Linked DNA regions of Homo sapiens: all the other regions are linked to region 2. The links come from fine-mapping of genetic effects on gene expression. A gene starts in region 2. Each other region holds a variant in brackets. All regions are shown on one strand. Distances are between the middles of the regions.

Region 1 (5,569 bases), 120 kb after region 2:
CTTGGTACAAGTTCAAGTGCTTTGAAACTGTGTTACGTCGGTACGAGCCCTGCAGAATTACATGTTAGCACATTGGTCTCCTTGAGCTTTTCTTCTGTTACCAGTTGCCTTAAGCACCTTCTCTGAGCTCTCCTTTGGTGGACTAAATATATTCAATTCAGAGAAATTCTTATTGAAATTGCAATTTTTTTAAGTATAAGATTAGACTTAGGGTTTTTGGCCCAGCTGCCCTCTGCCTCGTCCCACGAGCCCCCATTTGAGAGGGTAGCCTGTGGGTGGGTGGGGCTGGTAGAGACTTACCACCCCACCCACCTATGCTGCAGCCAGGAGGGGAAGAGGTGGTGCTTGGTCCAACTCAGAGACAGGCATACCTTGGCTCCATGCCCCACCGGCATGGGGACCACTTAGGATGGGGAGCCTCCGCCCTCTGCCATCTGTGTCCACCCAGCTCTTTCCCACATCGTTTCTTTCTCTGCACTTGCTCTCTCTGTCCTCAACTGGGCATAGAGTGGCCAGGCTTTGAATTTGCTTTAGAATCCGCCCTCTCCTGGCAGGTCTCTAAGTCAGCTGGGTCAGTACCACTATTCTGGCATGCCACAGCTAAAAGATCAGAGAAACTAAAAGCCATCCACCAGAAAATAAGTGATAATTCCTTATCAGAGAAAGACCCAAGACGGGTACCTTCCACCTCTGTTTGTGTCCAACTGCACCATTCTCTGGACCCCTTTGCACTGGAATGGTCCCCACTCCTCCTGGTGGAAGAGGTGTCAGGATTCTGGAGTCCTGAATTATTTTCTTGTCTACCCCACTTTCCTTTCCCCCACACTTTAAACTAATCACAGCATTAAAATTTTAAATCAAAGGCTGTTCTGAGTTGCATTCTGCTAGGAGAGTAACTCACTGCATTTCCCAGGGATACTTGGCTTGAATTTCACTTAATTTTCCAGTGCTTTACATAAACTGATTATTCTGAAAAAGCTTTTAAACCTGAAACATTTGATCCATTTTGTAGCATATTAATAAGTTTCTGGTTATACATAAAGGCAACATGGTGATTTGTTACTCATTTTTCTTCTCTCTGTTTTCCAAAACGTTTCTTCTTTAATTTTTGTGTGCTGATGAGGATGTGATTAACTTGTCAGTAAATATGTCAGTACTTGGTCATCAGAAAGATGGCATAGCAGTCATCTTAAGTAAACATTATTAGGAAAAAAAAATGTTGACTATTACTTGAAATGTGCCGGTCTGGGAGAAAAGTCTTGTTTTGGGGAGCATGAAGAAGTGGTTTAAGGCTGGGTGCGGTGGCTCATGCCTGTAATCCCAGCACTTTGGGAGGCCGAGGTGGGTGGATCATTTGAGGTCAGAAGTTTGAGACCAGCCTGGCCAACATGATGAAATGCTGCGTCTACTAAAAATACAAAAATTAGCTGGGTGTGGTGGCAGGTGCCTGTAGTTCTAGCTACTCAGGAAGCTGAGGCAGGAGAATCGCTTGAACCCAGAAGGTGGAGGTTGCAGTGAGCCAAGATCGTGCCACTGCACTCCAGCCTGAGCAACAGATCTAAACTCTGTCTCAAAAAAAAACAAAAAAACAAAGTTTTAAAATATCATAGCCAGCATCCAGCCTCCCGGACAAAATGGTGCACGATCCACAAAACCCTAACTTGGAGGGACAGCCTCCGTGCTCGGGACTCATTAAATTTTTCTGTGCCCCACTTCCAGTAGCTCTTGAATAAATTATGCAGTCTGAGAAAATGGGGGAAAACGAACACTAAGACACAGAACTATTGATTTTAGAGGAGTTTGTCCTATTTTAAGATCATTCCGTGATTTCAAAGGGAAGAGAGGTCTTTGCAATGTGACATGAAATTTCTCTTCCACGGAAAGAATGGATGACTTGACCTAGAAATGACTAGGCTTTCTTGGAGACCTAGCAGCGAAGGCATCCACCCATAGTGAATTCACACGCGCCCTCGGGGACTTGGAACCTGGGCTCCCTTGAGCACAGACACCTCAGTAACTCACCAGCTCCATGGCGGCCCCTGGGGTCAGTTTGCACACAGCTTGTCTTTTGCCCACAGTCACTCATCTCCTGTTTTACTAAAGGCATCTAAGAGCTCACAGCCTAAAGAGAGCACGCCTGGACCAGACGTGTCTTTGGAAGATGACACAAGTTCATCTCCCGAAGACGCAGAAAATGACTAGCGTCATAACCAGAGTTCAGTGAAGGTGGATGGAAACAGAGAGGCTGCGGAAGAGACTGGAAAGGGCTCCGAAAGGCTGTTTTCTGGGGGTACCATGAAGGTTGTGTTGTTTGGTTTAGAGGGTGGATCCAGAGTTGTAAGTAAGTGGAGAAGCATCTTCTCTTTCTAGCTCTTGGGGGCCCCCTCCTCTCACCGGAGAGCATCGCACTCTTCCCCCAGCTGCTGAGAAAGCACAGAATGTTCCGTGGTGTTCCCAAGGGGTTTTTACAAAAATTGCTTTCACTAATAACTCCAGGAAGACAGAGAAGAGTCAATAAAATGACAGGTGCAGACTTTTCCTGCAATTCCAAAAAGTTGGTAGAATACAGAGCCCAACAGAACCTTAGATGTCAGCTGAGCAGAACCTGTCACGTGACGAGTGACCAGGTAGATGGCCCAAGGTGATACAGCTCCTCTCCTCGCTTGGGCCAGTGGTGTTCTGCCCCGCAACACGATCCTGCTGCATTTGCCTGACACCTGCTTGTCTTTGTGCAGACTTAAAGGGAGCCAGGCAACATCCAGATGGAACGGGAAGGATGACCACTTTCTATATAAAACTCAGTATTTTGTGTAAAATTGGAGTTTCATAACAAAGAGAAGGAAAATAGTTTAGCCCTTCAAAATGTGAATTGTTGCAGAATAGGCCAGGCGCGATGGCTCACACCTGTAATCCCAGCACTTTGGGAGGCCGAGGCGGGTGGATCACTGGGAGGGAGGTCAGGAGTTCAAGACCAGCCTGACCAACCTCATCTCTACTAAAAATACAAAAACAAAGAAAAAAAAATTAGCAAGGAGTGGTGGTGTGTGCCTGTTGTCCCAGCTACTCAGGAGGCTGAGGCAGGAAAATTGCTTGAACTGAGAAGGCAGAGGCTGCAGTGAGCCAAGATTGCACCATTGCACTCCACTCTGGGTGACAGAGCAAGACTCTGTCTAAAAAAAAAAAAAAAAAAATCGTTGCAGAATAAACAACATGGGGACATAGAGGGAGAGTCATTGGGAAGGCATAGAGAAGCAGGCATTTAATGAAGCCCTGAGGGAGGAAAGAGGCCTCAAGAAGGCAGATATAATTCCCCACAATGTCTTAAGACAGCTAGAGGACACTAAAGGGACATGAAATCCCATGAACCTAATGCACATTGCTGTCCATTAATATGCTCGTTTCTGCAATGCTCTACTTACTTCTGAATGTTTCAAGCT[G/A]AGTGTACTTATTTCCATAGATGCAGGAAGGCATCTAGTCTACCCTCCTTAGTTTTGAAGGTAAGAAAAACAGACCCCAGAGGAATGAAGTCACTTTCAGAGGTGACATAGGCAGTGAGTGGCAGATCTGGTACTGGGACTCCATCTTCCTGGGCTGGGAATGTGCAGGAAGGGAGAGTTGAAAGGTGACAAGGGAGGAGAAGGGAGACACCATTTCTAGGGCTTTTCTCCTCTATCTACCAAGTACCTGCTACCTACGTACTTGGACATCTTGACTAGAGTTTGATGAAAGAAAACAGCACTCCCTGATGGAAAACATTATCTCTCAGTTGTTTATACAGTCTAGTAAATTATTTAATGTCTCTGTAGTTTCTCTTTTTTTGTTTTGTTTTGTTTTGAGACAGGGTGTCACTCTGTCACCCAGGATGGATTGCAGTGGTGTGATCATAGCTCACTGCAGCCTTCACTTCCCAGGCTCAAGTGATCCTCCCACATCAGCCTCCTGAGTAGCTGGAACTGTAGGCATGCACCACCATGCCCAGCTAATTTTTTGTATTTTTTTGTGCAAACGGGGTTTCACTATGTTGCCCAAGCTGTTCTTGAACTCCTGGGCTCAAGCAACCTGCCTCGGCCTCCCAAAGTGCCAGTATTACAGGCATGCGCCACTGCGCCTGGCCAGCTTTTCTGTAGTTGTAAGTTCCATCTTCCTGAGAGGGCCTAACAGAATCTAGAGCAGTAGATTGTAGACCTGGCTTTGCTTCTCTATCAACTTTGAGCTGCTGGCACATTTGTGTTTCAAGACACAAAATCTTTGGACCAGAAACATGGTAAATTCTGAGTTTTGTTGGTTGGTTGTTTTTTTACCATAAAATGACATAACCAGACTAAGAGATTTCAAAACTTGGATCTGTGATTCCAACTTCGATCTTTCCACGAAATCTCCATTCCCACACCTTTGCCTTCATTAAAAAACAGACGGGTATGAATGATAAAAGGTAGGGTGGCATTAGCTGTGTAGAAATTGCTGTATGAAGGATTTAGCTGTAATTCATTGTTGAGACTCTAAAATTCACTAGGTTTTCTTTAAATGTTTAAATGTAGACCAGATTGGAGGTTTACATCAGCTCAGTTTGGTAGGTAGGTAAGTATATAAGTAGCTGAATAAAAAGTCCTATAGATTGTATTTTAATGCAGCTTAAATTTTTTATCGCTGTGTTTTTGTCATTGTGCTCAAAGAAATATGTAAAATTATGACAACACAGTTTGTGCGATATTGTATTTCACTAGAGGAAAATGTAAAATGGATTGCTTGAGTGCATAAATATATCGGTCTCATAAGCATTCTCTAATTTATCTGTAGGCAGTCATTAAAGCTTTGGCTTGGACCAAAGGCCTTTAATGGAAAATAATTGGTATACTGAGGTCCTTTTAAACAGATCAAAATAACAATGGCAATTAAAATAACTCATAAATATTTCAAGTCCAGTCCTCAATAGCATACTTTTTAGCAGAAGTTAATATTTTTGAAGCAATCCTTGAAGAAATTTGCTATGTTAAAAAAAAAGCAGCCTCTGCTCTAAAACATTTGGTTTTATTAAGGTTATCTGCCAAGTAATTAACATGTGCATGGGGCTCACTTTGTGTAAAAGTTATTTCCGGTGATTTCCACTTACACCTTTGTCTCACATTATAGAAAAATCCTTCTCTTTTGAGATCGTTTTTGAAAGCAAAACACAATAATGAAAAATAGCAAGCCTGACCGGGCACAGTGGCTTAAGTCTATAATCCCAGCACAGGCCTGGGATTGCCAAGGCAGGCAGATCACCTGAGGTCAGGAGTTTGAGACCAGCCTGGCCAATATGGCAAAACCCCATCTTCACTAAAAATACAAAAATTATCCATCAGGGTAGTGGAAGCCTGTAATACCGGCTACTTGGGAGGCTGAGGCAGGAGGATCGCTTGAACCCAGGAGGTGGAGGTTACAGTGAGCTGAGATTGTGCCATCGCACTCCAGCCTGGGCAACGGAATGAGACTTCATCTCAAAAAAAAAAAAAAAAGAAAAAAGAAAACCTGAGCCTAGATTCCAGCTCAGCCCATACTGAGTGTATGCCCTTAGGCCACCTACCATTAC
Region 2 (5,569 bases):
TATACACGATAATAACAACCACCTCCATCAGACCTGAGCGTCTCGCAGGGGTGTCCAAGGGAGAGAATACAGTCATGGGTTCTTCATTTCTATTTTTGGTTGAGCCAGTAAAGCCCCTTCCTCATCCCTCTTTTCCACTTATCACTAGAGATGGAAACTGAAAACGATGGCTTTAGGCTGCTAAAAGTCTAAAAACACAACAGCAACAACAACAACAAAATAAGGCAGGTTGGACAAGCTTGATACAGTTAAGATTGTGAACCCAACTTGATTCAGTTTATTAAGATTTCTTCCACCCTGAAACATTCTGGAACTCTATACTAAGATCACAAACACCAGTGTTTTGAGTGAACAATAAGACTTAGAAAAATGGCATAGAATGGGATTTTTTTTCTATTTTAAATATTTCCATCTGAAATAATTATAGACTCATAAAAAGTTACAAAAATAGTACAGAGAGGTCACATCTATCCTTCTCCCAGCTTCCCCCAATTGTAACATCTTATATAACTGTAGTACACTGTCAATGCCAGGAAATGAACATTGGCACCATAGTATTCACTAGATTTGCACTTCACTGGGATTAGAGCAGGTTCAAACAATTTGGACACTCCTGGAGGTAATTTGAATCATTTGCATAAAATTTATTCTCAGAAGTAACATGGTATAGGGAATTTACACTTATCAGATCTTTGTATTGTGGGCAAGTTGTTTAATGGCACCAAGCCTCGGTTTGTTCATCTGTGAAATGGAAACAATGATACCTACCAAATAAGTTGTTATGAGGAAATAGCTCCAGTTCAGTGAGTGCCATATATTAGGAACTTTGATGCCATATATTAGGCTTAGATGCAGGAATCAGAAGAAGGAGGGAATCCAGCAGTCCCTATTTCTTTCTGCCTTCCTGACTACCTGCCACCCTGTGCAGGTGCGTGATTTGCGCAAATTGCAGCATTGGTCCTAAGGGTGACTATAAAACCCATATGGGCTTCTGTACGTCCTAGTTTTTCTCATGTCTCACAGTCATTTGTCTTTTATAAGCCAACTGGGCAAGTGCCATCCTTCATTCTTTTTTTGGTACGGTGCCTGCCATGTCTAAATGCTCAATTAATGAAATTACAGTAATAACCCTCCTTCTGGCCTGGTGTTCTGGAAGCAGTGTGGGGTGGATGATGGGTCTGGAGTGGATTTTCCTAGGTCCCCAGTGGAAGTCGGAAGGTCACCGCAGTGCTAGTTGGAAGAGAAGGTGGAGAGGGACAAGTGGAGGTGAAGGTTGTGTGGAAGGCATACCGACAGGAGTGGGTTGAGAGAAAGAAAAGTTGAGGTTGGAATGGAGGGGGTCCCTAGGCTCAAGGAAAGTCTAGAGGTTTGGTTTTGTTTTGTGTGTGGTTTTTTTGGTGGTTTTATTTTTTGATTTTTTTTTTTTTTTTTTTTTGAGACGGGGTCTCAGTCTGTCATCCAGGCTGGAGTGCAGTGGCACGATCTTGGCTCACTGCAACCTCCCCACTCCCAGGTTCAAGCGATCCTCCCACCTCAGCCTCCTGAGTAGTTGGGACCACAGGCATGGGCCACTATGCCTGGTTAATTTTTTTGTATTTTTGGTAGAGACAGGGTTTCACCATGTTGGCCCAGCTGGTCTCTTAACTCCTGAACTCAGGCCATCCACCTACCTCAGCCTCCCAAAGTGTTGGGATTATAGGCATGAACCATCACACCCAGCCAAGTCTGGAGGTTTTTGTGAAGAGTTTCAATTTTGGGGTCAGACTGACTGTTTTATTAGAATTTTGGCTCTGCCACTGACCAGGTATGCACTTTTGGACAAATTCCTTAACCCTCTTTAGCCTCTTTTCTCATCTGTGAATGGGGGGGATAATGCTAACTACCTCTTAGATCATGTATTGTGAAGATGGACAAAGAGTCTCTGCTTGACCGAACTACAGTCAGGCTCCGGAACCTTCTTCTAGGCTCAGTTGTGCCCTTCCTTGTAAAATCTGCTTTCAGGAAGAACCCTGCTAAGTCAGTTTACCAAGAACCCTCCACCCTGGATATCTGATCAGCTTCCCCATCCGCCCTGTCCTGCCCAGCCCTGCCAGGGGATGTCTGACTTTCAAGAATCCCCCTTCCCCCTGATGTTTCCTCTTATAATTTTTCATTCCCTGCATCCCACCCTGGTCCTCGGTTATAAATCCCCACTTGTTCCTGCTGTATTCAGAGTTGAACCCAACCTTTCTCCCCGACTGCAGAATCCCATGGTAGGGCTTATACCTATTGCGATGGTTCCAAAGAGGGTCTTCTTTGCTGTGCTTTCACACGTGTCATGGAATAGTCTTTTTTCTTTAATAGGACAGAAAGTTTTAAAGCACCTAGGGCCTCAAAAGATGTGGATTTCCTCCCCACCCTAACCCCTAGAACCATCCAAGTACCATTCCTCCTGAAGCTGTCCACCCGCCAACACGTAGGTACTGCAGGCCTACTGCAGTCTATACTGGCTTGGGGAGTGTTTTTGCGGATCTTTAACACTGGGTGTGAAATCTACGTTGGGGGACACAACTACATTAGGATGGCACCTGGTGGGGGGGTCACACCCAGATACAATGTCTCCTGCGGCCCCTTGGGTGACCTGGTGTGATGAAAAGGGCTCCGCCCTGAAAGGCAGGTCTGGCTCTTCTGCGGGGCTGCGGGGATGGGGCGCGCCGGGGCAGTGTCGCCGGGGGTCGGGCTGGGGGCGCGACGCAGCGGCGCCGGGCGGGGGCGCCCTCGGCGCCGCAGCCGCCAGGTGGCACCACGGGCCCGGGGCCTGGGCGCGGGCAGCGGCGGCGGCGGCGGGCGAGGCAGGAAGGGGTTAAGGAGCTGGCGGAGCAGCAGCAGCCGCCGCCGCCGCCGCCGCCGCGGCTCTTCGGGGAAACCCGGCGCGGGGCGCGGGAGGGAGCGGCCGGGGCGGCGGGGCCGGGCCAATCGGGCGGCGGGCCCGGCGCGCGGAGCCAGCGACATGGAGGGGGGCGCGGCGCCCGGCCGCCCGTGACGCGCCGCCGCCCGGCCCGCTCTCGGCGAGCCCGAGCCGCCGCCGGCCCCGCGGCGGAGATGAGCAGGTCCGCGACGCTGCTGCTGTGCCTGCTGGGCTGCCACGTCTGGAAGGCGGTGACCAAGACGCTGCGGGAGCCCGGCGCCGGAGCCCAAGGTCAGTGGGCGGCGGCGGGGCCGGGGGCTTTGTGTCGCGCCGGGCCTGGCGCGGAGGCGGCGGCGGCGGCGGCGGCGGCGGGAGGGTCCCGGGCCGCGTGGTGGCGACGCAGCCCGAGCCGCATCGGGAGCCTCCGGGCCTGCAGCACCCGCAACGCGCTCCCGAGGGGGCGGCGCGGGCCGGCGACGCGGGGTGACCCGGGCGGAGGCTTCGGGGGCCGGGGATCGGGGGCTGGGTCGGGCGGGGGCGCGGGCAGCTCCAGCTGCTGTCGCCGCTGCGGCGGGGGCTCGTCTGGATGCGCCCGGGGGTCCCCTTTATGCCGCGCCTCGGACACGCGGCTCTGTCTCCCATGTCGCCGCGGACAGAGGGGCCGCCCAGGGCGCGCCGCCCGATCGCGCTCCCGGCTCCCCACGCCGGGCTCGGGTCTGGGAAGTCCCAGCTCCTGGGCTGCGCTGGGGCCTTTTGTTGTGGCGGGAGGGGGTGGCTGACGCCCCGGGGTGCCCCCTGTGTCCCGGGGCCCCGAGGTCCGCTGCCGCCACTAGCCACTAGCCTGCCGCAGTTTGGGAAAGTTTGGGGGGTTCTCTCCCCCTGCCTATCTGACGTCTCTTCCAGACCATAAGGGATTTGCTCAGCGGCCCATGAGTCTTCTCTGTAAGGGAAGAAAGAATTGAACTGGGAGGCCCTCATCGCTCACCAAAAAAAAAAAAAAAAAAAAGAAAAATCCTTTCCAGATCAGTTTGTCGCCAGCTCGTGCCTTTTGTCTCGTCTTTGGCCTCCACAAATCTGCTTTCCAGCCCTGGGAGTAACGTGGTCGCCTCTGAGAATGGCCACGAGCCTGTCTTTTGTTTTTAAAATCAGCGTTTTTTGAGGGGAGTCCCCCACACCCACCCTGAGGCTTGCTTGGCACATTTTTGTGGGGACAGCGTCGAGGACTCCTCTGTTGCTGGCGTTTTCAAAAGGGCCACTGAGGCCCGCAGATGAGCCTCTGCATTCACCCAGGGCACCGCTGCCTGGACTCTTGCCGGGGGCTCAGGTCTCTGCGAGGGAGCTCCCTGCAGCCCTGCAGAACCCCGGGATTCCGAGCCCGAGGCCTGTCCCCTCAGAAGGGTGTGTGTCCTGCAAAGTTGGCCCTGCAGGCCAAAGAAACGAGGAGTGCTGCATCCGAGGGTCTCCTTGCTGGAACCCCCTTTCCTCGGCTAACATGCTCAGGGTGCCTGGGAGCAGAGACGCCCGGGCTTCCACCACGATGTTGCTACGGGGAGGAAAGGCTCTGCCAACACTCTGTTGGGTTGAGTTTGTTGCCTACATGTTGAGTTGAAGGTTTTCATATTCTGGCACTTGCAGTATCATTTCCTGGTATATCTTAAATGCATTGCTGCTTCTATGGCCATGGTAGAATATGACCGTTATGAATTGTGTATAATTTTAGTAATGCATATCATGGAAGAGCGGACAGCTACAAAATACAAAAAGACCTATATGTCTCTTCGTGTAGGAAACGAATGTTTAGGACATTAGATCATCAGTGTTGCATTGCAGCTTCTTTTATTAATACCCTACTGCTTTTTTGAATCAGCTATTTTAGAGAATGATATTTGCACTTCAGCGAGGCCGTTAATTTTAAAGAGCAAGTTGAATTTTTCCTTTTGCACTTGAAATACCAATATATGGAAATATTAAATTCATGCACTTCTGAATTAGAGAAAGGAAGGCATGTCTTCAATATATATATATATATATATTCAATATATATATAACAGGTTTAGGTCTAAGACCACGTTTTACCCAGCTCTTGCTGCTAAAAATCCGCCTCTCAGGAATGGAATATTATGCGAAATGGGAGGGAAATGGTCAACATGAGAAGAGGTTTCTGCCATGGCTAGCAGTGGCTTAGTTTAGGGTATGGTTGGAGTGGGAGATCAAGTATCTTGGCATAGTTTACCCCTTGGATTACTTCCTTTGTTGTTATCTACTGTAAGGATGGCTTTTTAAAGCCTTGAGCCCAGGAACTCTTTCAGAAATCAGGTCTCACTACCTGGCATTTGGATTTTGAGCTAGCAGCATTTTTAAGGGAATGGACAATTTCTCCTTTGACATTAGAAGGTCAGTCCCAACTCACTGAGTTCTTCAAAGCATCTTAATGTTCACTTGCTGTAGTATGACGTAGTTTTAAAATTCATGTGTTCTCTGCTTTCCTGGATCATGTACACGATGAAGACAAATGCTGCATCTGATTTCACTTTGCATTTCCCACAGTGGGTTGTAGGTTGTTATGCATACAGTTGGTGCTCAGATGGTGCTGAGTAGGTAAGCATCAACCATAGCTAATACCTACACCATAACGCAACCTTTAGTGATCATCATTGGCTTGCATTTTAAGAAGAAAAGTTC
Region 3 (5,569 bases), 24 kb after region 2:
TCCAAGTCCTAAAAGTGTTCAGGATAGGGAAGCTGATGCCGAACATCCTTCTGATGGCATAGGAGTGATTTACTTCCTGGTGGGAAAAGCCCTTTAGTGGTCCTCATGAGGGCCACCCTGGAGGAGCCATCTCAGTGTGGCTAGTGGCCTCTTAGCAATCAAGAATGACTTGGAGGTTCCTTTAATATTCTGGCCTTTACAGGAATTGAAAGGGAAGGAGCAGAGTGTTGTGGGAAGAGCCTGTTTTAAGTGATATTCATCGATTCACTGATTCATGGATATTTATTGAACCCCTCCTACTCGAGTTACATGCATGGCCCTCGCCCTTCCTGAGTTCACAGTTTATTGCATGCAGTTAACTACTCAGTAAGCAAGATTGCTGTTCCAGGTGGACAGATGTGCACTTAGCCTTGTTGTAGAACACCTGTCTGCAGGTGTGTACCTCTAGCCCTGTTCTGTATTTTCTAGGGCGCCTTTCTGTGTAGTCCTAATTACATGCCGTTTTTCTGGATAATGATCTAAGGGACTTCCTAGCTTGCTGTGAAAACACAGGTTTGCTAACAACTTAACAACTGTTGTGAAAAAAGAAAAAACTCTGATTGGATATAAATCGAATGTGAAAAATGGTTTCCATTTCCTCCCTCCCGATTCATGTAAATAATTTAAAGTTGATACAATTTGAGATGGTAGCATGAAGTCAGACTACTTTTAAAAATTAAGAGTTATGAATAAAACAAAGGAAAACAGCTCCGTTGCTTTAGAGAAAAGGTCAATAAAATGAAAGTGTGATAAAATGAAATGGAGTACAGTGAAAGTCACTTCCTGCAGCTGCTGCCCGTTCTCCCGATGGCTTTTTGGAATGGGGCAGCAATTCACTCAGCCAGCTTTTCTCACTGCTCAACTGCGTCACGAAGCATGGATGGGAATCAGCTGGGGATCTTGTTAAATGCAGATTCAAATTCAGGGTCCCGTGTGGCCCCTGAGAGGCTGTACTGTTAACAAGCTCTTCCGTGAGGCTGATGCTGCTGGTTGGAGGACCACACTCGAAGTAGCAGGGCTGCACATCCAGGCTTGATGGTTAGGAACAGAGAGGGGCAGAGCCAGGACGCCGTCATAGACCCTGGTGACTGCAAGGGGTCCTAGTTACACTGCAGTCAGTTCTGCCTACAGGTAAACAAGCCACTCCTTTTCCCTTAGACTTTTAACATCTCAATTTAAGAAAGCTACCTAGAGGCCGGGCATGGGGGCTCACGCCTGTAATCCCAGCACTTTGGGAGGCTGAGGCGGGAGGATCACTTGAGCCCAGGAGTTCAAGACCAGCCTGGGCAGCATGGTGACACCCTGTCTATACATTAAACCAAAAAAAAGGCTACCTAGAAAATGTCATTCTTGGCCAGGCACAGTGGCTCACGCCTGTAATCCCAGCACTTTGGGAGGCTGAGGCAGGCGGAACACCTCAGGTCAGGAGTTTGAGATGAGCCTGGCCAACATGGTGAAACCCCATCTCTACTAAAAATACAAAAAATTAGCCGGGAATGGTGGCAGGCGCTTGTAATCCCAGCTACTCGGGAGGCTGAGCCAGGAGACTCGCTTGAACCCAGAAAGTGGTGATTGCAGTGAACCGAGTTGGTGCCATTGCACTCCAGCCTGGGTGACAGAACAAGACCCCGTCTCAAAAGAAAGAAAGAAAATGTCATTCTCATTTTATTCAAAACCTAGCTTCAAGAGAGGTGGTGGATTTAGTATGTCAAGCATTGGGGTAGAACGCAAATCATGTGGAAGGAATTCTGCAGCTTTTTCTTTTCTTAATTTTTTTTTTTTTTTTTTTTTTTTTTGAGATGGAGTCTCGCTCTGTTGCCCAGGCTGGAGTGCAGTGGTGCGATCTCGGCTTACTGCAACATCTGCCTCCTGGGTTCAAGTGATTCTCCTGCCTCAGCCTCCAAGTAGCTGAGACTACAGGTGCGCACCACCACGCCCAGCTAATTTTTGTATTTTTAGTAGAGACAGGATTTCACCATGTTGGCCAGGATGGTCTCCATCTCTTGACTTTGTCATCCACTCGCCTCGGCCTCCCAAAGTGCTGGCATTACAGGCATGAGCCACTGCACCCGGCCGAATTCTGCAGCTTTTTCTAGGTAAATACTTGGTGACTCCGTTCATAACAATAAAAATATTGTATTGCATACTTATTATATGCATAAGAAACTCTCAGTAGGTCTTACCGATGCTGTTTGTGGACTTTGGGCCTGGCTGTCTTTCATCTGCTTTTAGGTCACCTCCAGTCAGACTGCATCGATTTCCGACCCAATGAAAACTGCTTCAGGGAGCAACAGAAATACTGCTGTTGTCCTAGGTCCAGTTTGTACTTCATGTTGAACCACCCTTTTATGCTTTTTCTTTTTAAATGGAGTTCGACTGTTATCAACTATAAAGCTTGCACATTTTTATGAGTTCTGTTCGTGTGATCTTTTAGTATTGTGCAAATGGCATCTTGAATAAGTCTTTTATGAGTGCTCTTTGGGGTTCATTTAAAGAAATAATAGTTGGCTATTGTTGCTCAGAGATGCAGAATGCCTGATTTTCCCATTCTTTTAAAAAAAATTGTTTAATTTTAACAAATGTCTAGGTCTTCCTGAGATCTCTTTTACTACAGTTGACGTAGCAAAAAGCCGTGTTTTTTGCACCATGTCCAGATAGCACAGCAGCCAGCTCTGCCAGCTACCCCTCCCTCTGTGTCTTTTGTCCCTCTGTAGAAAGTGGCTCGG[G/A]CACTGCTAAAGCGGTGGAATTCTCCAGTGGCTTTTTAGTAATTTACCTCCCTGGAGATTCTCAGCTGCTTGCAGAATCTCAGAAGACTCTGGAGGATCACTTAAATGGCTATCCTTGTGAGCACTTGCCTTCCTAGTTCACAGGGCTTTGATTTTTGTTCTGTGTCTTTAAATGAATTCAGTGGAGTTGGGTGTGCTGGACCCATACCTCTTGAAACACTCATTTCCACGCCTTCTGTATTAGAAGAGTCACTCAGCCAGATAAGAGCCTGGACATCAGGAGTGGGCTGTAGTCCAGATGGACCTCGGCTTGTTTCTGCTACGGGGCATCTGGATCTCCTGGATGGAATAGCAGGGAAAGGAAGTTGAGAAAAAGGATCTGTGAGTTCTTGCTCAGAGCATTTGAGCTTTCATTCGGGAGCTGTATAATCATTTTCCTGCCTGTGGCTCCATCTCTTCATTTCATACAGATCTTGAGGCCTCTTCCCACCATAAGAACATGCCTGTGGGCTGGGCGTAGTGGCTCACACCTGTAATTCCAGTACTTCAGGAGGCCAGGCGGGAGGATTGCTTAAAGCCAGGAGTTCAAGACCAGCCTGGGCAACATAGGAAGACTCAGTGTCTACAAAAATTAAAAATAAATTAACCAGGCATGGTGATGCGCACCAGTAGTCCCAACTCCTTGGGAAGCTGAGGCAGGAGAATCACTTGAGCCAAGGAGTTGGAGGCTGCAGTGAGCTGAGATCACTGCATTCCAGCCTAGGTGACAAGACAACCCTGTCTCTAAACAAACAAAAAATACCTGTGAAGCAGCCCCGCTTTGATGGGAGAGCCCCTCCACCTGTTCCTTCATTCCATTCATAGACAGAAGCTGCTGTCTATACAATCTTTCCCTTTGCTTAAGGGGAACTCATGCCTTAGCTGTCTGCTGTCTGTCCCTTCCCTATCACATCACAGTAACCCGTTTCTCCAGATCCAGCGGACATTTCTGGGTCTGCTCTCCTTGTACACTGGAGCCTCCGTCACCCCAGGAGTCTGTCCTGCTGTCCACGGCAGGGGCCTCTCTAGGCTTTCCTTATGTGGCTGATCTGTCCTTTCGTAGTCTTCTTTGCACCTTTGCTCTCCTCAGCTTTCTAGAGCCCAGGAACCTGTATGTTTTTTGATGGGCACCCTGCTCTTTGCTTGAGGAAGACGTGGCCTAGGATCCCAGGCCTGACCTCTCTAGAGCATCTCCTTTGCACCAGGGCTTCACTTCCCAGCCCCCTCCTGGATGGATGCCCAAGGCTATCCCCCGTCCAGACCTCCCTCCTGACCACCGGCCTGTGCAGTGGCTGTTGTCTGGATATCCTCACTGATGACATATATCCTCACTCCCCGGCCACCCTGCCTTTATACAGGTCACTCTTCTAGGGTGTTTTTGCTTAATGGAGTCATTTTCACTCTTCCTAAAGCATCAGGTGTTGTCCCCTTTGGGTGTCATCCCCTCTCGTTCTGCCATCCCAGGTCTGTGTGCTTAGCTTTGCTATTTAATCAGAAAATATTTATGGAACGGCACAGTGATCCAAGCCCTGTTCTAGGCACTGAGGGTCCGGACACTTCCCGCCCCAGATTGCAATTGCTGGTGCACATCTTCATGTCTGTCTCTCCTTAGGGCCAGAACTGCCACTCACTCATCTGGTCCTGCGCAGTGTTTTCTGAAAAAGTCAATGTGATCGTACCAATTTCCTTCGTTCTCTTCTCTCCTTAAGTTCTACTGTGTGTCTTCCCCTCACCTCCCACAGAAGCAAAAAATAGGAAGTGGAACTTCATAGTTACAAGATTAAACAGATCAAATTTCATCATCATTTCTGGCTTCTACAGATAGCTGAAGTTTTGTGCGTGTATGACGCAAGGTGTGAGTTGAATGCTTCCTTTGTTCCATCGATTTGCTCAGCTGTGTTTCCTTTCTGCTGTGTCCTTTGTTCAGGGCTGAAGAACTCCGCTCTGAAAAGTAACTGTGAGACGAATATTCTGCCTATTCTTAGGTGGCCCCTATGCCTATGAATATCAAAGCATTTTGTTGGGAAACAAACATGAGATTCGCAAATGTTTTTATCCAGTAATACTGTCATCCTTTTCCACTGAGACAAAGTAACAAAGTCTGAAACACAGGACAACATAGCTAGACAATTTATTTTGGGGCTGTTATCCCTAGGGTTGCCAGTTATAATACAGGACACCAATTGTATTTGCATTTCAGATAAGCAACAAATAAAATTTTAATATAAAGATATTCCAAATTTTGCATGAGACATATTTACACAAAATTATTTGTTTGTCATCTGAAATTTGAATGTACCTGGGCATCCTTTTTTTGTTGTTGGAAACAGTGTTGCTCTGTCACCTAGGCTGGAGTGCAATGGTGCAGTTTTGGTCACTGCAGCCTTGACCTGGGCTCAAGCGATCCTCCCACCTCGTCCTCCCAAGTAGCTGGGACTGGGACTCTAGGAGTGAGCCACCATGTCTGGATAATTTTGTTTATTTTTTGTAGAGACTAAGTCTTGCTATGTTGCCCAGGTTGGTCTCAAACTCCTGGGCTCAAATATAGCCACCCTTATAACTGGTAGAAGACAGTTGCTGGGATTAACAGTTTTTCGCTCTCAATTTTCAATCCTGGTGATGTTTCAGACAGAGAGCCTACTCTTTGGTGGAAGCTCCTGTTTTTGCCAATTTAAATCTCAGCACTTTTAGCAAACTTCTCAACCCTAAACTTTTTAGTAGGATCAGTGAGAAGGCAGTGCTTTTTCATTGCACCTCTTTAAAGA
Region 4 (5,569 bases), 210 kb after region 2:
CGGGGCGCGCGGCTCGCGGGAGAGTGCAGTGCGCGGGGAGGCGAGGCCCGGGGTGGGCGGGGAGGCTGGGGCCCGGGCGGGGAGACGCTACTGTCACTTGCCGCGCGCCCCCGGCCAGCCTCGCCCATCCCCGCCGGCGGCCTGGCCCAGGAGGCGCCTGTTGCCCTCGCCCGCGGGTGGCTCCGGTGGGCGCCGAGGAGAGGCGCTACGCCCTTCCCTTTGTGGCGGCCGCAGCCTGGGGTAGGAGGTCGCCCTCCTCTGCTCCCTGCCATCCTTGTTAAGTCCCTTCAGACTCCCTCTCCGCAGCCGCCACCCGAAAAGAATGGGCAAAGACGTGGGTGGAGCGGCGTGGAGGTGCCCCGATGGTGTCGGGGCCGCAGGCGGCGAACTGCGCAAAGTTCTGGCGCCGAGGGGGTCCCGGGCCCGGCCCCTGCTGGGGATACTGGGCTTTGCACCGCCTCGCCTGTCCCTAGAGCTCTTCAGAGCAGGGCCGATCCCCTGAACCGGGCTCCCGCTGACCTGGCCGTATCCTGTTTGCAAAGCTGGTATTTGATCTCCAAAACTCGATGCACCACGCATTTTCACACTTGATCGGATTTCTTAATCCTTTCCCTTTGCCCCCGAACCCTGCAGACTTGATTTGCTCTTCTGTTGGAGAAAAGGATTGCTTCAGGTGAAGGCCGGTGTTGATGCTCTCTTTTTAGAGGCAGTGGGTCATTTTAAATAAAAACTGGTGTCCTTTTAAAGTGCTGTTTACATTACCCTTTTACCCTATTGGATTCAAACTATGCGCTGGCACAGAGCGGTTCTTGCTACACCCTTAGAAGTGAGATTTTTCGAACCATGGTGAGTGATGGAGAAGTGGGTCAGCTTAAAAAACATGATAGGGAGGCCTGAGTCACAGATGGTTTACTCAGTTCGTAGAGAGATTCTTGAAATGATTGATCATTGAAAGTGTAAATCATTTGCATTCTACTTGTCTACTTTAAGATTTATTATAGAAAGGGACTTTTGACTGACCTCTAATTCATTATAAAATATTAACAAATGAAGAAAAAGAAAAGCTGACTATGTGCATCTCCCATTTGCAAGTTGTTTTTATCTTTGCCGTGAATACTTCAGTGGCGGCTGCAAGTATCGAATGTTCGAGTCTAGAATATTTTTTTTTTTAAAGAGAGGAAAGGAAATTGCATAGGAATCTGAACCTGAGCCCTGTTTATGCAGGGATAGAAACGTGTTTGTGATAGATAGCTAAATACAAATATGTTTTTGAAACGGTAGTTCTATTGCCAGAAATGGGCCCAGGTGCAGATGCAAGCTGATGGATTAGCTTCAGTACCTGTGTTTTCTTTCTGGAGAGACCCTGGACTTTTATCTTCTCTGCTGTAATTTCTGTTTATTGTTCCTCCTTTGATTGATATTCTAGGTTGGGGGCTTGATTAGGACTTCTTTGCTTACACTGTTGAGAATGCCCCTGGTACAAAGAATTCCTCATCTGTGTGCGCATTGATCTGAGCCTGTCCCCCGACACCTTTCAAGAAGCTAAAGTTCCCAGAGTAGCACCCAGAGGCATCTGTGCTGCCTTCGGAAGTTTTCAGTTTTGTATATCAGCACATTTTATATATTAGAAAGGTTAATCAAAATTTAGAGATGCCCCATGGACTGAAATGTTTTCACCAAGAGCAGATACCATGTTAATAGCTTCTAGTGGGAAAAGATTAACATAATGGATGTATTGTACTCTATTTAAATGTAAGGAGATTAGGAAAACTCCAAATGACTGCTCTCCTTGGATTGCCTGTTTGGATTTGAATTTAGACAATGTGTGCCAAATTTGGGGGAGTAAATGTGTTTTATTTGGCTCATGTACTGATGATATCGCAGTAGAAACCTAGGTTTTCTTTAAGTAGCTCAAGTTTGTAAATGTTAAAATTTGAAAGACTCTTTTTCTATACTCGGCCTCTTCATTCCCATCAGTTTAAATAAATAACAAATAATGAGCCTTTGGATGAATCAGTAAGAACATGTTTCACCTCTTAAAGGCAGTTTGTCAATTTGAGGCCACCAGGCAGCGGCCAGTGCAGAGAGGTAATTTACTGAATAGTGCCCTTGTGGCCTGAAAGAATTCATTTACCCCACCACTCAGTATAATGTATTTACTAGTCCTTTTAGACATATTAAGTTGAAACTAAAGCCTCAAATAAAAGGAAAATACCCAATTAGAGTCTTGTTTTGCACCAAAATGTAAGTATTTAAATATGTAAAACTGCATATGCTGTTCTTTTATTTTCATGGAATTTTCTTCATGGACTAAAAAGGGTATTTCGTTTTATAGATAA[T/C]GCTAAGAGTCCATGAATGAAATATCAGATGTTTTATGTTTAATTAAAAGCAATGGCGTAAGTATTATAAAATACTTGAGTCTCACTGTCTTTATATCTTGTTTTTCATGGAAAATGTACCTTTTTTTTTTTTTTTTGAGACAGTCTTTCTCTGTCACCCAGGCTGGAGTGCGGTGGTGCAATCTCGGCTCACTGCAACCTCCGCCTCCTGGATTCAAGCAATTCTCCTGTCTCAGCCTCCTAAGTAGCTGGGATTACAGGCGCGTGGCACCACACCCAGCTAATTTTTGTATTTTTAGTAGAGATGGGGTTTCACCATGTTTGCCAGGCTGGTCTCGAACTTCTGACCTTAGGTGATATGCTTGCCTCGGCCTCCCAAAGTGCTGGGATTACAGGTGTAAGCCAGTGTAAAGAGTTAAATGTACTCTTTAACTTTTTGGTCCACCCAAGCGTGGAAGTGGCAAACCACTATAAAACTTTCATGAATTACAAAAAACATGGGGGAAGAAGGGATTGTCAGTTTTAATTAGTGAGACTATATTCAGACAAGTATAATTTTATTATTTTCAAACAATGTTTGGCAATTAGAACCAGGCTAATAGAGGATTGCCTAAAGACATCTTTATATAACTTACTTTAACACACGATTTGCAATTAGAATTAGGGAGTAGGTCTTTATAAAGAGCTTGAAGGAGCCTGGAAAGACTTTCTACATAGATAAAAATTAACCTCAGTCCAGCTTCCTATATGAATTATTAGAAATAGTCCAGATTACTGAAGATTTCTGTTCTGCTATGGGTGGCAGTGGTACAAAAAGGTGACCTGGAGGATGATTTTTTTTTTTTTTTTGAGATGGAGTTTTGCTCTTGTCACCCAGGCTGGAGTGCAATAGTACGATCTTGGCGCACTGCAACCTCCACCTCCCGGGTTCAAGCAATTCTCCTGCCTCAGCCTCCCAAGTAGCTGGGATTACAGGCGTGCATCACCACGCCCAGCTAATTTTGTATTTTTAATAGAGACAGGATTTTACCGTGTTGGTTAGGCTGGTCTCAAACTCCTGACCTGAGGTGATCCCCACCTCTGCATCCCAAAGTGCTGGGATTACAGGCGTGTGCCACCATACCTGGCTAATTTTGTATTTTTAGTAGAGATGGGGTTTTACCATGTTGGTCAGGCTGGTCTTGAACTCCTGACCTCAGGTGATCCCCTGGCCTCGGCCTCCCAAAGTGCTGGGATTACAGGCCATGGTGCCCGGCCTGGAGGATGAATTTCCTAGGAGCTTTCACCGTTGGATCTGAGGTTAAGATGCTCAAGGATCTTTAATACTTCCCTCATTTTGCTGTGTTTTTGCCTTCTGTTACTTTCTTCTGAAGGGCTTTGGGGACATTGAGGACAGGCCAAATTGTTGAAGAATTATTTAGAACCCACTGTCTTCTCGCTGTCCTTTTGATGTCCGGCTTCTCCAGTTATGAAATACATTTGGTATTGGTCATGATCTCTTACTGAGCTAATGTTATGGTCCATTGTTGGAGACAGAGTCAAATAAAATTCGTGTTGAACTTTGGTAACAAAACCAAATCTGTCCCCTTGCTTAACCAACATTGACTTACAGAGAGCATATACTTCCTAGAAAAATAGATGTTTCTCATAGCTTTCCGTTAAGAGAGCTTTTCCCTCAATATTCACTGGAAGCAGCTACTAAGAAGATTTATATAGGAACCAAAATAAACATAGGTGAGTATGTTTTTGTTGGCAGATACATGACTAAATTAGTCCCTGGGGTAGACATGAAATAGGGTTAAGACCTTTTTTTTTTTTTTTTTTTTTTTTGAGACCAATTCTCGCTCTGTCCCCCAGGCTGAAGTGCAGTGGCGCGATCTCGGCTCACTGCAAGCTCTGCCTCCCAGGTTCACGCCATTCTCTTGCCTCAGCTTCCGGAGTAGCTGGGACTACAGTAGGCGCCCGCCACCACGCCTGGCTAATTTTTTTGTATTTTTAGTAGAGACGGGGTTTCACCATGTTAGCCAGGATGGTCTCCATCTCCTGACCTTGTGATCCGCCCGCCTCGGCCTCCCAAAGTGCTGGGATTACAGGCGTGAGCCACCGTCCCCGGCCTAAGACGTTTTTAAGAGTTCTTTTTCTTAGAAAGATTGAAGATCTGGTATTGGACAAAGATGAAAACTTTGGAATTCTTTTAACAAAGAACATAATCTGTCTTCTACCATCCCCAATTTAGGGGGTAAAAAAAGGAAGTTCTTCTTTGGGCACTATGTTGTTGTATCTGACTTCATATGTCTGTTGTTGAAATTGAGTTGGGAACTTCCCCTTTGTCAGCTGTGTGGTATCAGTGGGAAAATGCAGAAACATTATGACTTGCAATAAGTTTTTCTTATGGAAAATTTAGGGATAACTCAAAGCTGCCCTTTCTGAAATTTGATCTGTTATCAACTGTATAAATCTAAATGGAAAAATAGATTAACGACAGTCTTTGCCTGAGGGACCTCCTCAAATCAAGAACTACTGTTTGAAATGATCAAGTGTCTGCTAAGACTTGCATCTGAATGGGTGATGTCACCCTTTGGCCCAGAACAAATTTTTTCCAGGGTTGTCTAAATATAGGACACATACTTTGCCATCTTTGTTTGTTAGTGCAAATGTACGTTATACATCTATACTAGTTAAAATCACTTTATTTTAACAGAACCAAGTTCTACTCCAAGTTCAAGAAATTGATTGTTGTTTTCTTTGAAAACATGTTAATGACGTTTTAAAAATACGCTTATTCAAAAATCAAACAATAGGGCCAGGTGTGGTGGCTCATGCCTGTCATCCCAGTGCTTTGGGAAGCCAAGGTGGAGGATCGCTTGAGGCCAAGAATTCAAGATCAACCTGGGGAACATAGCAAGACCCTATCTCGATGAAATAAAAAATGAGCTAGACATGGTGGTGCATGCGTATAGTTCCAGCTACTTGGGAGGCTGAGATGGGAGAATTGCTTCAGCCCAGAGAGCTGTGATCGCACTACTGTACTCCAGCCTGGGCAACAGAATGAGACTCTGTCTAAAAATATACATATATATATATCTCTCTCTTATATGTATATATTTATATATATCACATATATAAATATCAAAAGATATCAAATATATAGATATATAAATATCAAATATATAGAGATATATAAATATCAAATACAGATATATAATATCAAATACATAGAGATATATAAA

Direction of the effects. Alleles are on the strand shown, and positions count from the first base shown. SD is a standard deviation of normalised expression in the study named. Not every link is listed here.
In carriers of allele A in region 3, the expression in stomach of the gene that starts at base 2,845 in region 2 tends to be lower than with G alone (moderate effect, 0.40 SD a copy in GTEx).

What was found.
Region 1: its variant is fine-mapped to the expression of FAM171A1 in whole blood (INTERVAL, PIP 0.98).
Region 3: its variant is fine-mapped to the expression of FAM171A1 in stomach (GTEx, PIP above 0.99).
Region 4: its variant is fine-mapped to the expression of FAM171A1 in whole blood (INTERVAL, PIP above 0.99).

Annotation. Positions count from the first base shown.
Region 1 is chr10:15,249,025-15,254,593 of GRCh38, reverse strand. The region is part of intron 4 of FAM171A1 (family with sequence similarity 171 member A1); the gene reads left to right. Among named protein-coding and RNA genes, the nearest start is that of FAM171A1-AS1, 43 kb to the right of the region's middle. The variant G/A (reference allele first, on the strand shown) is at 3,438.
Region 2 is chr10:15,368,565-15,374,133 of GRCh38, reverse strand. It overlaps FAM171A1 (family with sequence similarity 171 member A1), which reads left to right and starts at 2,845. Exons shown (of 8, transcript NM_001010924.2): 1 at 2,845-3,178. The coding sequence starts at 3,082. RefSeq lists silencers at 2,799-2,848, 2,859-3,088.
Region 3 is chr10:15,344,101-15,349,669 of GRCh38, reverse strand. The region is part of intron 1 of FAM171A1 (family with sequence similarity 171 member A1); the gene reads left to right. Among named protein-coding and RNA genes, the nearest start is that of FAM171A1, 24 kb to the left of the region's middle. The variant G/A (reference allele first, on the strand shown) is at 2,766.
Region 4 is chr10:15,162,783-15,168,351 of GRCh38, reverse strand. The region is part of intron 1 of NMT2 (N-myristoyltransferase 2); the gene reads left to right. Among named protein-coding and RNA genes, the nearest start is that of NMT2, 3.1 kb to the left of the region's middle. RefSeq lists silencers at 1-289, 1,816-2,016. The variant T/C (reference allele first, on the strand shown) is at 2,340.